2 separate regions of the Homo sapiens genome follow, and region 2 is linked to region 1. Evidence: fine-mapped expression QTL. Tissue or cell type: NK cells. Region 1 holds a variant in brackets; the other region holds the start of a gene. All regions are shown on one strand. Distances are between the middles of the regions.

Region 1 (2,687 bases):
ATCTTTTTATAAAGCAATGAACAATCTCTGATTTTATAAATCTTAATTTTCCTATGGGTTTTCTTAAAGTGAAATACAATTATAAGAATACATTTTAAGGGTAACATTAACAACCTAGAACCCAGTTTGGGTTACTAAAAATAAAATGTCAGTATTATCAATTGATAACTACCACAGTTTTATACTCTGCAAGTGTGTACTGCATGATGGTTAAGGAAAAACAAATTTATTTTAGAACAAAGCAAACCAGAGTTTAAAGATCAGGGATTTCCTTCTTTCCCCAGTGCTAATTTTCCCAGTGTTAATTTTATTATATCTTTAGGTAAGGGTCTTAACCAACTGATGCCTCAGTTTCTTCCACAGAGAATAGTTAGAGGGATGCTGTCATGAACTAAGGGAAGGGCACTGAATTTTTTTTTGCCAATATCAAAAGTGACATTTCCCCATGATGTTCAAGACTCACCAGGTTTCTCTCTCCACCTGTACCTACACCCAGCTAGATCTTGTCGTTAAAGATGTATGGAGGGAAGAGGTTTCAATCCTTCCCTCCTTGGCAACCTACATTGTTAAGTGACTCAAAGTCATGTGATTTTTGGTGGACAACTGGAATCCTCCTTCTTGTAAAACACATTGAAAAACAGCTCATCTCTCCTGTTAGGCTTAACCCTTGAGATTTGAGACAAAGCTAATAATCCCCTTTGGTTCACATCTCACAGTAACCAGGAGAACCTATGGTTCATTTGCCAAGTGATTAAAAAAAAAGATGGAGGAGGGTGTCTCTGAATTTTAATGGAAACACTGCCAATAGCATGGTGGGTAACCTAGGGCAAGACAGACTTTTTCTTCCTGAAATCACTCTTCTAAAGCTGAGACCGGAAGAGGAACCTTGCAGAAGTGCACTGTGACCACAGTTCTTGGCATGAAAGATAAACAATTTGCAGTCTCATGCCAAAAAGTATTTCCTTGCATTTACATTCATTACTTAGAATGATCACATTATTCATTTTTTTCCCCAGCACAGAAATTTGCATTTTGCACAGAATTTGCCTGGTGCAGCAGATCTTTATAGTTATGGAAACTGTCATCATTATCGGAATGTGCTGCTGCTCAACTCCCCAGACATAATTTAATATGGTGAGGAGAATATGACCTGCCTGGCTCTATGGGTGATCATATTTCTACT[G/A]CTGCAGCAAGCTGGGCTTGTGTATTTTTCCTCACTTCAGTTGTTCTTCCCATAGTTCATGTAGGGAGGCACTTTGGCTTTTGAAACACTACATTTCTCAATATTTAAGCACAATTTATTGTCCTTATTTTTCAGAACCCATTAAATATAAGGGTCAGAACCTAGAAAATCTTATGTGCTGGATTTCTACCCTGTATGATTCTTTTCATCCATGCTTTGCACTTACGTAGGAATATACATAATTTGGTCTGAAGAAGTATAGGAACAGTTGAGCACATTACTTCACCACTGGAAGAATAGGAACCAGGGAAAAACATCAGCCTCTGCCACTTGGAGCACTAGAGGATGACGGAATGTCTTGTATATGCGGTCAACTGTTCAGGATTTACTACTCAATTGGTTGTTCACAATCAGGGAAATGATTGGCTTCTTGGTTGTTTGTTGAACTTTCTTTCTTTATATGGTTAAATTATTTTGTTTTGATAAAAATAAAACTTAAAATGCAAATGTCTCACGTGATTTGTTAACATTTTAACCAAAACCCCTGCAAATCATATGCTTTATGAATTGGACATCTGATTATTCCTAATCATTGACCCAATGCCTCGTTGGCCGTATTGGTATCCCATTCCACTCAACAAAGGGATTAGGTCATGTCAAATGATCTCACTTTCTTGTGGTGCTTCCTTTTCACACATAGCTCGTTTGTCATTATCTGCCATATTTTATAGTCTGTAACTTAGGAATCTGGTTTTAGATTCTTAAATGTAGCGAAACTCTGAAGCCACAGGAGGGCACGAACCACAGTGCAATAATCCAGAATCTTTTCCCCTTGGATTTGATGTTTTCTGGACATTTAGCATTATTCATTAACAGAGAAAACATCCTTAAATCAAAATCATAGCTTCTTATGAAGGTGATTTATGTACTCCTTGCAAGAATAAGTAGACTTACTTTTACAGCCCAACACAATGTTATTAGTCTATTTACATACCTCTTGAAGACACTTGAAGTCAGTGGGGCACAATTCATTGGAGGGAAAAGTGGGATCGAGGATATGGAAGGAACAGGTATACTAATTGATGGCAGTTAATAGCTTTTTTCCCCAAACTCATCAAACTGTAATCGCCGTTATTATAATTAATCTATTTGTTCCAAACTTCAGTCATTTGAGAACCATCTTAATGCTTTTTGCCATATGTATCAAGATGCCACATGTGGGTATATTTTTTACTTAATACTTTTATTTAAATTATCTCTGTGTTAAAGAAGCAATTATTGCCCTAAGCAATAATGTCTATGAAAACTTGTTGAATTTTCGAGTTAAGTATATTTTCAAATATGCATTAAATGTAGTAAAACTATTAAAAATTGTTCATGTGCCAGTTAAATACCATCTTCATATTACCAGTGGTCTACCCAGTGCACTTGGGGAAACATCGAGCTAACCTAAACAGTATGTTTGCTGTTAGGTTTTCTAGTTATTCTGGCTTCTATGAAGCAG
Region 2 (2,687 bases), 95 kb before region 1:
TTCACTGTTTATTTTTGTTGACTTTGTTGAAAATCAGTTGGTTTTAGGTGTGCAGCTTTATTTCTGGGTTCTCTATTCTGTTCCATTGGTCTGTGTGTCTATTTTTATACCAATACCATGCTGTGTTGGTTATTGTGGCCTTGTAGTATAGTTTGAAGTCAGATAATGTGATGCCTCTGGCTTTGTTATTTTTGCTTAGGATTGCTTTGGCTATTCGGGCTCCTTTTTGGTTCCATATGAATTCTGGAATAGTTTTTTTCTAATTCTGTGAAAAATGACATTGGTAATTTGATAGGAATAGTGTTGAATTGCTTTGAGCAGTATGGACATTTTAATGATATTGAGTCTTATAATCCATGAGCATGGAGTGTTTTATCATTTGTTTGTTTTCTTTCAGTAGTATTTTGTAGTTCTCCTTGTAGAGATCTTTCACCTCCTTGGTTAGATGTATTCCTAGGTGTGTGTGTGTGTGTGTGTGTGTGTGTGTGTGTGTGTTGCTATTGTAAATGGGATTGTGTTCTTGATTTGGCTCTCGGCTTGAACATTACTGGTGTATAGAAATGCTACTGATTTTTGTACATTGATTTTTGTATCCTTAAACTACTGAAGTCATTCATTGGGTCTAGGAGTCTTTTGGTGGCAACTTTAGGGTTTTCTAGATATAGAATCATATCATCAGTGAAGAGAGATAACTTGACTTCCTCTTTTCCTATTTGGATGCCTTTTATTTCTTTCTCTTGCCTGATTGCTCTGGCTAGGATTTTCAGTACTATGTTGAATAGAGTGATCAGTGCCATATCTTAAAAATAAAACCTAATTCAAACAAATCCATGTTGAACAAAATATCACCATTTTACATAAAGACAGCATCGCAGAAATCTTTCACTGGGACCTCCCACCATAGTCAATTGCAGTGGAAATGCTCATTCTGGGCCCTCAGGAACCTCTGGGGTTACATGTGGAGGTTCTGCAAACACTTGTTCCATCCACATCTCCAGGAAAACGACCACCTAGGCTCTAATTCTTAAACTTGCCTGCACAGAACAACCTCATCTCTAATGCAATGTTTTTTTGCACACCTACATTTCTGGGCAGCAAGCTCTTTATAGGTTGTTAGGTCAATAGTAACAATTACTAAAGAGCTGAGCGGTGGCTCTTTTTTTTTTTTTTTCGTGTCTGCTTCTATCTCTTCCTGTTTTCTAAGGGTTGCTACCGTGACGTTAGGTAATGTATAGGAAATAATTTACTTCCTATTTCTGGGCCATACCAAGTTTTATCTCTGCTTGAGTCTCTTCCAGGTTGCTTGAAATGGTGCTTTTCTCAGTTAAACGTGGACTTGACATAAAGGCCAAGCCACAGGAGGCTGCCCTCTTTTATTTTATTTTATTTTCTAAGGCTCAGGGAGCATCTCTCCGTTCTCTGAGATGCTGCCTGCAGAGTAGGAACTGGGAGAGAACACTAAAATGCCCTCTCAGCAAAGAGTAGCGAGCTCCCTACAGAGAGTGAGAGCACGGGCTCTTGAGCTCATCTCTTCTCTGTGGGGCCAGCCCAGTGGTCCTTTCTGGACCTGTGGGTGTCTTCTCTGGGCAACCAGATCATTGTGTTTGAATCAGAGCATCATTGGCTGAAAACACTCCACTGTTTATAAAGGTATGTAACATGCTCCATGACATAAGCATATATAAAATGTCAGTTAAAAAAAAACTCTTTTACTCTATGTTCTTAATGATATATTTATCTTCAAGCACGCAGTTAAAGGGAAAATGCTACGTAAAACTGTGTGTGACCCAGTTCAAGTAATTCTCTCATGTGCTTAATACTGCTGTTGCTTTTGTCAAAATATTTACTACAATTCAAAATGGCTGTCAGAAACCAGGTCCACAATCCATGTTCTACTAAACAGAAAAACATTTATAAGAAAATTTATTGCTTTATAAACTGTTTTTTTTCCCAGTGATGAACCTAATTAAACTGAAAGTGTGAATTGGTTAGAACATATTAGCCCAAGTATGTGTGGTATATATATACACATATATATGTATGTTTTATTAGGCCAAGTTTTTTATTTGTATATAATATAATTGAAATATCAAGGTATTTGATAGAGCTACTATTTATAGCAATTCTACTGATCAGCCACCCAAGGGTAGCATTTTTCAATGAGATTTACAAGGGCCAATAGTCCATGTATTTATACACATATCTGACTTCCCAGTATCCAAAATAGCAAAGAGCTGGAGGCTATCTCAGATCAGCCATGGAAGCCATGCTCTGAGAGGTAACGTGTTTCTCCTTTCCCGTAGCAAATCTTTCTGTAAGAATGAAACCAGAGATGTTATCTACCAAAATGCAACGAGGGACAGGATGCAACTTAGAAAAATGGTAACATTAGCTGACTGGGAAAAACAGAATCAACGTCAGGGCCAGTTTAAAATAATATGCCTTTTAACCACCCTCGCTTTATTGCCCCAGCTAAGAGCAAGTATTTAGGACCATAGGCTAATATTAATCAGAGAGAACACTTAGGTTCTGTGGCAATGTTGGGGTCTGTGAGATTTGCTTCCTTAGCTGTGCTTCCGCTGGGAAGCTGGGGAGGGTTGGTCCTGAAGGAGGAGTGCCATGTGAGCAGGGTTACCCAAAAGCACCTGCCTAGGGGAAATGGGCTCACTATCAGGCGCCGTGGAGTT

Alleles and levels. Positions count from the first base shown, and alleles are read on the strand shown. Sizes are in standard deviations (SD) of each study's normalised expression.
As copies of A replace G in region 1, the expression in NK cells of the gene that starts at base 1,264 in region 2 goes up (moderate effect, 0.41 SD a copy in Gilchrist 2021).

Evidence for each region. PIP is the estimated chance that this variant, and not a neighbour inherited with it, causes the effect.
Region 2: it holds the start of ZNF831, and the variant in region 1 is fine-mapped to the expression of ZNF831 in NK cells (Gilchrist 2021, PIP 0.95).

The regions. Positions count from the first base shown.
Region 1 is chr20:59,257,424-59,260,110 of GRCh38, forward strand. ZNF831 (zinc finger protein 831) reads left to right here. Exons shown (of 6, transcript NM_178457.3): 6 at 1-1,690. Among named protein-coding and RNA genes, the nearest start is that of EDN3, 42 kb to the right of the region's middle. The variant G/A (reference allele first, on the strand shown) is at 1,184.
Region 2 is chr20:59,162,558-59,165,244 of GRCh38, forward strand. It overlaps ZNF831 (zinc finger protein 831), which reads left to right and starts at 1,264. Exons shown (of 6, transcript NM_178457.3): 1 at 1,264-1,650.